Regions from separate parts of the Homo sapiens genome. Here region 1 is linked to region 2. Evidence: fine-mapped expression QTL. A gene starts in region 2. The other region holds a variant in brackets. All regions are shown on one strand. Distances are between the middles of the regions.

Region 1 (5,388 bases), 380 kb before region 2:
TTTCCCATAGTTAACAATAATTTATTGTTGAAATAACTGAAAGAGTAGAATTGGAATGTTCTTAACACAAAGAAATAATAAACGTTTAAGGTGTTGGATATTGCAATTACCCTGATTTGATCATTACACAGTGTATGTTTGTATCAAAATATCACATGTACCCCATAAATAGTAAATATGTGCAACTATTATGTATCCATAAAAATTAAAGATCATCTTTTAAATTGCTATACTGGAAATTTAAGATAGAAGTAACATTTACTGGCTTTTTTTTTTTGAGACAGAGTCTCACTCTGTCACCAGGCTGGAGTGCAATGGTGCAATCTTGGCTCACTGCAAGTTCTGCCTCCTGGGCTTAAGAAATTCTCATGCCTCAGCCTCCAGAGTAGCTGGGATTACAAGTGTGTGCCCCCACACCTGGCTAATTTTTGTACTTTTAGTAGAGATGGGGTTTCGCCATGTTTGCCAGGCTGGTCTCAAACTTCTGGCCTCAGTGATCCACCCGCCTCAGCCTCCTAAAGTGCTAGGATTACAGGTATGAGACACGGTGCCAGACTTCAATGGCATTGTTAAAGCAACATGAGTATAAACATGGTTTCTTCTATGTAACTGTTGAGGCTTAATCACCACACATTGGCCAATTATCATTAAACCTCCTTTAGCAGCCAGGACTAAACGCACCATTCTTCCTTGGTACCACCCTTCATTCATCCGACAAACATTAGTTGACCACCTGTTAGCTGCCAAGCACTGTTTGAAACTTAGAAATAGAAATATATAGATATATGGTCCCTGTTCCTAAAGGTACTGTTACATGAAGGATGGCAGCCCTCATGGAAATAGACACAATAGAGAGGAATCACTGCATCCCACTCAGGGCTTCCCTGCATAGCCCTGGAACTCCCTCAGTGATACACACCCGACAGGTCCTCAGGTCAGTTCTGGTCCTTCAGAAAGTTCCAAGGAATGAGGGAGGGTAGCACTCTGAACACATTTCAACCACAAATCCCAGGCTTACCTAGCACTTCGCTTTTCCTGCTTAAATGAAAAAAGAATGGCTAAAAATGTGTTATAAGAATGGATGAGGCTGGGCGCAGTGGCTCATGCTTGTAATCCCAGCACTTTGGGAGATGGAGACAGAGGTGGGCGGATCAATTGAGGTCAGGAGTTCAAGACCACTGGCCAACATGGTGAAACCCCGCCTCTACTAAAAATACAAAATAACAGCCAGGTGTGTGTGGTGGGCACCTGTAATCCCAGCTACTTGGGAGGCTGAGGCAGGAGACTCGCTTGAACCCAGGAGGCAGAGGTTGCAGTGAACCAAGATCATGCCACTGCACTCCAGCCTGGGTGACAGAGTGAGACTCTGTCACAAAAAAAAAAAAAAAAAAAAGAATGGATGAGACGTTCCTTTGGAATTTATTCAAACATATCAAAGTTTTTTAAACCCAGCTATAACATCTGGAGCAGACAAAATCTACACTCAGTAGTAGATTCTTATGATCTCTCTTTTTCTCTCTCTCTCTCTCGCACCCTCCTTCCCTCCCTCTCACTGACTAGTTTATTAATATAAATGTTGCTCCCAATTTGAGAAGTTCATTGAGGCATAATTTAGAATTAATAAGCTCAGGCAATAGTATACAATTAATGTACTTCCCAAGTTAGGCAGGAGTTTAATGTCACCTCATAAAACCAAGTCTTTGTAATTATCGAAGTGCCAGCTGTGAACTGATCAGGAACACAATAGGAATTTTGTTAATTATCATTACCCAGAGGAAAATAATTAGTTTCTTTGTAGGGAGAATAAAAACAAATGTTGCTATTTTCATTTTAATTTCAACCACTGAAGTTGATAAAACTCAGAATTGGTCTACCAGTTTTGGTCCTCCTATTTCTAAATATTACAAACTCATTAATGCATTAGCAGATTGCATGTTAATCTTCATGTCCATAAATTAATTGGAACACTAGTCACTGGATAATTGGTACATTGTTTTTAGGGGGCATAAAATAACCGCCAAACCCCAAGGTAAAAAGGGCGACTGAAACACCTTTGGAGAGAATGATATAATCTAGCTTTCTTAAGACTTCAAAGCTTCATCAAAGTCTTCTTTAACCCATTATCTTTTCCTTTAAGCATGGCAAATTGACTTTCCTTCTCCCCTACACCTTGCAGATAAATCTCAAAATCATCAGATCAGAGTAACAGGGAGTATTTATTGGCCTAACTGAAGAACTTGGGTCCAATTGCAGCCTTCTCTTCTCTAGAGCCATCAGGCATGAGGACCCACTGTCCACTTCGGTTAGAAACCACACTGTCCATAGGGAATGCTATGTTTTGTTTGGAACACAGTATGGTACTTCTGAAATATTGAAGATAGTGCTAGGCCATTTGGGTAGCTCAAAAATGCAATAATGGCTGGGCACAGTGGCTCACACCCTTAATCTCAGTACTTTGGGAGGCTGAGGCAGGAGGATCTCTTGAGCTCAGGAGTTCAAGATGAGCCTGGGCAACATAGCAAGACCCTGTCTCTACAAAAAAAAAAAAAATTAAAAAATTAAAAAAAAAAAACTAACCAGGCATGATGGTGTGCATCTATAGTCCTGGCTACCTGGGAGGTGGAAGTAGGAATATCCCTTGAGCCCAAGGTGTCAGGGCTGCAATGAGCTATGACTGCACCACTGCAATCCAGCCTATGTGACACAGTGAGACTCTGTCTCTAAAAAAGAAAAACAAGCTAAAAGATGTTGAATGATTTATTGTTTTTAGATTTTTGGAGCTTTCAGGAAGCCTACAGATTACAAAGTGCAAGCAGACACAAGCATTAAAAAACAAGAATGTCAGGAATTCTGACCCTAGGGGCAGATAAGCAGTCACATCCTTTGCCCTAGGATGTAGAACTCAAGCCTAAACCTACAAATCTTGATTTTACAAATCCATCTCATGTCATTTTCATTCCATTAATTAAAGACATTTATGTGTCACTAAACGTCTTTCAACAGATCAGCTTTGCCGCATAGGTCCAAGTAAGAGCTTGGAAGAGAAAAGTGTTTGAGTCCAAC[G/A]TCTATATTTAAGGCTTTTGGCATTTACTTACATTCTTTGGGCCTCAGTTTCCTATCAGAAAAATGCAGATAAGAATAGCAACTTTGCCACAGTACTGTTTAAGGGATGAAGTGCAAAAAATTATCACTATACATCAGTATTCTCTTTGTGGAAACTGCTATTCCTCTAATTACTCTATGTTATCAGTAGATGAACAAACCTGAACAACAAACCAATAGTCAAGTGTCCATGGAGAGAAATTATTGTTGCAATTGAGTGAAACAAGTTGGTGGTGTGATATATGTAATGACTTGCATCACTGCCATTGTGCTGCATACTAATTAGTTATAAATAATAAGCCATAGATATAAATGTCTATAATTAGTGTTGCTTTTACAGGAAAGTTCAATTTTTCATTTTTCTTTTCTCATTTTGTCCATTCTCCATATCTGTAATCAGCATCAACATCAGCAATTTTTCAAAGTACAGCTTCACTATAATCACTCACAGGAACAATCACCCACATTAAAAGATAAAGCCCCTTGCCCTTGAACCAAGATGTTCTTACTTCAATGCTAGGTGTTTCAATTCATGGTTCAACCAGGAACCTTCTCCACTGGGATTTGCAATACTAGAGGCAGTAAAACATCTGGACCATGAGGTCACTTCTTCTCCTTGGAAGGCAATGGAGGATTGTTCACAGCATAAAGAAAAAGAGGAAGCAAGTCAACATCTGTGGAGGCACTCACAGGTATTTGGCACTGCTAGATGCTTTTCAATTTTGTATCTACATCTCCTACCACCCTCATAAGATAACTATGACATTATCCCCCTCTTACATGTGAGTAAGTTATACCTAACAAATGTCAAATAACTTATCTAAGTCCCCAGCTAGAAAGGGCAGCACAAGAGTTTGAACTGAGATCTGCTCCACATAAAATCCTAGCCTGCTATATTAGCAAGTGAGTCAGAGCAAAAGCCCTGAACTCAAAAGTATGTGGGTGTGTGGCCCAGGAGGGCAGAATCCAGGGAGACGGAGCTCTGAAACCTAGGAAGTGAGAGTTTTGAAAGAGATGAAGAGGATCAAGGATTGATCAAGGAAAGGGGAGAGGGGAATTAAGTCAGTTCATGATCACTTTCACTGTAAAAGTTTTGCTCTGGGAAAGGCAATGGATGAGTTCAAGGGTGTATCAGCTGGGCTTTGGTAGTGGAAGCAGAGTCACTATGAGCATTATGGTAAATCCATAAAGCATTTACCATAGGAATTAGAGTTTACAGAATTGTGGGAAGAGCAAGGAAAGGAAAGTTCTGGGAGAGGGAGTTGGAGGATGGAAAAGTCAGGAAGCACTGACTCAGGTTGGCAAGACAATGCTTTCAGAGAGACTTGAGAAGCCAAGCACAGCCAATCTATGAAGCAGGGCTGTGAGCAGGCGCTCAGGGAGACCTCAGGAGAGCTTTTGCCTTTGGCAGCTACTGCCTCTGTGGGTCTGGAATCAAGCATCTGGTGGTGGGCCTGGGGCCACAGTGGTCAGCAGGTCCTGTACTCTGGATGATGAGAGGACCACCATGTGGAGGACAGTGAGGATAAACTGGGACCCACCAGGTACCTCTGCATCTATTCATCTTTGTATCTGGTGTGCTTCCAATAGTGTATTTCCACTAAAGTTCCTCTCCTGACTAATGCTACAGGAAACTCCACAGGAAGGGGATTCTCCTAATGTACTTCCAAGCTTAATCAAGCTGTCAATAGGCACAATTTAAGACAAAGAGTGATGCAGGAAAATCAGTTAGGAAGCTATGTTATAGAAGTCCATGCACGATGTGACCAGTAGAGAGAAAAAAAATGATTTAAGAAACAGGAAAAAAATGCAAGTGGACTTGGCAATGCACTAAACAAATATAAAGAATTTATTTTTAAGGTTAACACTAGCTAAAATTAGAACTATCACAATTGATAGATAAATTGTAATTGGCAACAATGATTTACACAAGCACACTAATAGTCCAATTCTAGCATTATCAAAGGATTTTAAACCTACATTGGGAAACTTTTGCCTCTTGCAGCACATTGAGCAGAAAAAGCCATCAATAAACTATTTTAAAATTTCATGTATGAAAATATTTTTCATACGAAATGCTATCAAAACTTTATAAAAATAAAATTTATTAGAGGTGATACATGATTTTACTCACCTACGACAGGTTTTCTTGTGAGTGTAAAAAAATTATGCCAGATTTTTAGCGGTGAAGATTCTTCCTGTGTTAGGAGGATTGAAGACCTATGACTCCAACAGCCAAAAGAGTAAGATGTGCTTGGAATGCTTGCCTTCCAGAATATTTGAAGC
Region 2 (5,388 bases):
TGCAGCCAAAAATATATTTCCCCAATACTAGCACAGAAAGAACTGCTAAAAGTGAGAGACATCCTGTTTATTCAGGGTTACTGCAGTCCCTTGGGGCGAGGACCATCTATTTTCATGTACTGCTAAACTGTCCAAGATTATGATGTGCTGGGTGTTTTTTGCTCATTTCTCATGCTTCATCTCTCTCTCTTGCTGATTTCTTGCCTTTTGAGCTCTTCAGCCAGCTGGCTGTGGTGGACAGGGCTGTAGGAAGGAGTGTAATAGAAATCAGGAAGTGAAGATGCTGATTCCCACACAACCGCCAGACTGGGAACGAGGCTGTCTTAAAGATCATTTGGGCAAAACACACGCTATACTGTCCCTGACATTATCTGTCAAGTGTCCGATCCAGAAGTAGCAAAGTGGGATGGATAATAATTAGTGGGACTATAGGGACCATAATGATAGCTTGGTGGCCACTGGGAAATTTCAGTCAGTGAGCATGGCTCCTGATATGAGATAATGTGTGATCTTTAGACTCAGGTCTCTTTTAGAATAGCTGAAGCTGGCATTGGGCCCATATATGCCTCCAGGTAAAGGACATCCCAGAGACATTTTGTCCAATACAAAGCCTGGAAGATTCCTCATATCTTGTACTAGATTTATTGTTGCCCTTGTTATATATCATAAATATCCATCTTCCGCATTAGATTCTGAGCTCCTTCAGGGTTAAAGTCATATAATTTTCATGTATAGTTCCCCAATGCCCAGCAAGCAATTTATTAATCAATCAACCAATTTTATGAAAAACAAAAAACAAAACAAACAAACAAACAAACAAACCACTGTACTTCATACCTGAATTAGACCAAACAGTTGAAACACTAATGGGACATTAGGACTCCTCCAGGGGGAATTAAAAATGGTATCTCCCTTTCCTCTGTCCCATTCTCTTGAGTCATTTGCGAATGAGCTGGGAATGTTAGTCCCCCTCTTGTCTTAAAATGGAAAGGTTCTGGATGTAGGGCCCTGGAATAGTAATTAGAACTAACTTTCCCCATCCACCCACCCACTACGTGACACAAACTGCCTTCAAACCTGGCTGGAGAGATTCACCCAAATGCTTATTGTCATCTATTGCATCATCTTCTAGGAAAGAAGAAAATTGCTTCCATATCTCCATGGCCCTAAATGGTCTTTATCTAATCTGACCAAAGTCATCTCTTGGCCTTTTGATGCCAACAGCATTGGCCATCCTTGCTGCACCCAGGGTCACCCTGACCAAACACTCTGGAAGTGTGCGTGATTCATCAGGTCCCACCTTATGGAAGTTACAACAGTAGTATGGGTAGGACAATAGGACAGAGTTACAGCAATAGCAGTGGCCAACCTGCATTGCAGAGAACCAAAACTGCAAGTTCTATTTCCATTCTCCATCCAAACAAATACTGTATTTTTTTAAAAAAAATAAATAAATCCAGATATGCCTTCCAGTTCCTTGACCTTAATCTCTCACTCTGGATCTGTTTAGATTCTATGCCCTTCATGTAGCTATTTACGACCCACTGGTTTACTATCTCGGTCTGATGTTCTAGACTCTGACATCTGGTCAAATATTTCATCAAATATTTGATACATGAATGAAGAGGAGACTTTAAGACTTTCAAAAGGATAAGAACCAGAGGCTAGGCATGGTGGCTCATACCTGTAATCCCGGCACTTTGGGAGGCCAAAGCAAGTGGATCACTTGAGGCCAGGAGTTCGAGACCAGCCTGGGCAACATGGTGAAACCTCACCATTATTAAAAATACAAAAATTAGCTGGGCACAATGGCAGGTGCCGGTAATCTCAGCTACTCAGGAGGCTGAGGCACGAGGATCACTTAAACTTAAGAGGCAGAGGCAGAGTCTGCAGTGAGCTGAGATTGCACCACTGCATTCCAGCCTGGGCAACAGAGCAAGAACCTGTCTCAAAAAAAAAGGATAAGAACCAGAGCAGCAAACTCAACCCTGATACATTGCCATGTATCTCAGAAATATCTACCTGGATGTTAAAAGGGTAAATAGAAAGAGTTCACGCTCCATATTCCCCTGGTTAAATTGAGACATTATAAGACGGATGTGGGAAATAGAAGAGAACGAATTATGAGGTGTGCTGGCCCAAAGCCACATGCCTTGTGGGGAAACAAATTCTTTGACCACCCTCAACAACAGTGACTCCCAACCTCCTTGGAATTTTGGCACCCTATCATTATGTACTTGATGATCCAGTCTTGATTTGACAACCTCCACTCCCGCACTTGGCATGAAAAAAGTTATGCAGCATAGATTTATTTCATTTTTTCCTAATGAATGTGAATGAACATGACTTTTATTGCAAGCATTTTATAGCCTTTCTTGAAACAACTTGCATCATCCTGGCTAAATGGAACACAATTTTTCAAAAAAATAAACTTGAGCAGTCGTGTAGCTAACACAACACTACAGTTAGTAAGACAGCATGACAGCAACAGCCCCAAGGAAATAGACAGCAATCCTGGTTTCAGTGAGGGAGACAATGTGAGAGAGGGAGAGCTCCCAGTATACCTGAATATGTTTTCTGCAAATAGATTCCCGAACATGTCCTCACATCCTTCCAGTAAGTTTTCCAGTAAGCCTTCCAGTGAGCATTCACTTGAGCCAGTTTCAGTTTGTTTTCCATCCCTGCAAACAAATGATCCTGGTCTAGATCATGCTGAATTGGCACTCAGAAAAAGATAAACAGAGACCAGTAAAAAGCCTTGGCAGACCCATAATCTACCTTCTCTCATCAGCCCCTCAGAGCACAATACCTTGCTGGAAGTGGAGGAGTGAGACAGAGGTTACTTCGGTGTCTGGGATCATGTATGTGCCGCCTGGTTTTCCTATAACCAGCTCTGACACTTCTGCCTAACAGAGCCATCTACCCATATCTGAAATCCCTAATTCTAAAGTAAAGATAACATTTTTCTTGGCTTCTTTGGCTGATATCTTTGGATAGAGCAAAGGAAAAAGAGAGCAACAACACGGAGAGGAAAGATGAAACAAAACATGGAGAACTGTGTAAATGTATCCCCACCAAAACAAGCACACTTCATTCTACAGAGCACACAAAGAAAAGATCCTGGAGTTAGAAAAAGACTCTGTTACAGCGGAGTAAATACTTGCTGGGCTTTTCAACAAAAATTTCTTTGCCCTACAGACAGGTCTGGCTGCCTAATTTCTGCTATTAAACAAGCTCCAACTTGATCTGGACTTCATGAGGAAATGTGAAATTTGAACCTTTTTATTTCCCCAGCTTTTTTCCGTGCTCCCACTTTATTTTGGTTACTGCCTTGACTTCCACCCCCAGGTGCTATAACTGCTTTATTTCCTCCTGCCCATAGCCTGTTCAACACATGGCGGTTGCTGGTCCATTTTCTCGAAGCACTGCTTTCTGCCATATAACCGTGGGTGGCACCAGTTTATACAGGCAGTGGCAGTGTAGGCAGGAGGCGTTGGTTTCAACAGGGTGACAGCACACAGCTAAGCAGCCAGTGCCTTCTCTGGGCCTCAATTTCCTCATGTATGAAATAGATATTTCCTCACTACTAGGGTTGTTGAGGGGATCAAATGAGAGAGCAAATGCAAAGCTCCTGGCTCAGGGGCAAGCACACAGCAGTACCCGCTAGGAGGATGCTGGCCTTCCCTCTGGAGGTGACAAAGTACCTGCTCCTGAGAGTTCAAGTAACTGGGTCCAAAAGTGCATGGAATTTGAGACAGGTTTATAAAACAGTGGGTAGAGGATGAAGGACTCATGCTCAGGAAGAACTTCTCTGCCCTCACATCCCACTATCCCAGTACATGAACAGAATGTGCTTTTAGAACCCCATCATGGGCTCAGAGGGAAACCTCTGAGAAGATTCAGGAAGCCATTCAGCCAGAAAGGCTGAAGGAAGGCAAACAGCAGAACTCAGCACTTTCAGCATAATGGTCAAAACAGAACTCTGCAGATAAACCTTAATTGTAAAACAAAATTGGTGAAAGAAAAATGGGTGAATTAATGGGGATTCTAATTTAATAAAGTTAGAATTAACTACTGTCAAGTTAAAAGGAAGTTTAAAGTCAGTCTTATTATAAATGATTAGTCCACTCAGTCCTCTGCGGGAACCAAAATTCTCCTTAACATGTTAGGGAAATTAAATTTGTTATTTAGAACCTGTGATAAATCTCTTACACTCTTTGTTGGAAAAAACTTTAAATGCATCATTTATTGAAATTAATCTTCTTTCATTAAATAACCTTTGATTCCAAGAAATAGCAAACCTTTTAACTTTTAACCTACAAGTGAAACAGCCAAATCCAGATAGTAAATTTGAGTTAATTTAGCTGATGATATGGCTGGAAATTTTATTCTCAGAGATATCTTAGAAGATACAAATCTATTATTGTTAATGTGAGAAGAGCAATGTATATGCATATTATTATGTCAATCTTATTTGGTTGTAGTTTTAAAATTTAGCTAGTTATTCTCACAGAATTTTTCATAAAGAATTAAGAAGCCTCCTAGGTTTTATTTAAAAACTTAATAACATAACTTAATAACATAAGCTACATAGAGGTGAAAAAGATAAATGAAAAACAAAAATAAGTAGCTAAACTACAACTAGGAATTAATCCAATAAAAAAAATTTTTAATATACAAAGCTATTTTGCGACCTTGGTAACACCTTTTTAACCAGGTAAGGAAAAAATAGTTTGACTTTTTATAAATATATAATATTTAACTTTTTGCTCTTTCCAGTTTAAACTTTGCCTGTTTGAAGGACATTCCAAAAATATTTCAGTACACTTCTTAAAAACCTTCTAATGCGTCTTCTTAGAATGTCATATGTTATTGCCAAATTAAATTACTGTTTTACTACCTGACAGCTTGAAAACAAGGACTATCATGTTATTAGAAAATCTTGCAAGAAAATAAATCTCAGCAATAATGTGAACTCATGGAAGTGACAGAATTTTTTAGAGACAGATATATAGATACATCTATATCAAATTTATATTTTTTTAGAGATGGAATCTTGCTATGTTGCCCAGGCTGGAGTGCAGTGGCTATTCACAGGTACAATCTAGGCGTATTACAGCCTTGAACTCCTGGCCTCAAGTGATCCTCCTGCCATAGCCTCCCAAGTAGCTGGGACTACAGACATGCCCTACTGTGCCCAGCTTTATCTATATTTTTTAAAGTGGAAAATTTCTGCTGGAATTTCTTGCAAGTTCCTGTTTACATGCCTCTAAGACTTCAAATATACCCTACCCTCCAACTTAATATACTATTCTTTTATTTAAATGATTTTCCCAGTACAGTTTTAGTTTTATTGGCTGTGTGGTTTTGGTCCCAACAAAAGCAGTT

The links. PIP is the estimated chance that this variant, and not a neighbour inherited with it, causes the effect.
Region 1: its variant is the best candidate, but not a certain one, in a credible set for the expression of LINC01564 in esophagus mucosa (GTEx, PIP 0.86).

The regions. Positions count from the first base shown.
Region 1 is chr6:54,000,943-54,006,330 of GRCh38, reverse strand. MLIP-IT1 (MLIP intronic transcript 1) reads right to left here. Exons shown (of 4, transcript NR_046832.1): 2 at 5,237-5,388; 3 at 3,612-3,717. Among named protein-coding and RNA genes, the nearest start is that of MLIP-IT1, 4.7 kb to the right of the region's middle. The variant G/A (reference allele first, on the strand shown) is at 3,064.
Region 2 is chr6:53,625,868-53,631,255 of GRCh38, reverse strand. It overlaps LINC01564 (long intergenic non-protein coding RNA 1564), which reads right to left and starts at 2,876. Exons shown (of 3, transcript NR_125841.1): 1 at 2,810-2,876; 2 at 2,565-2,681; 3 at 1-243.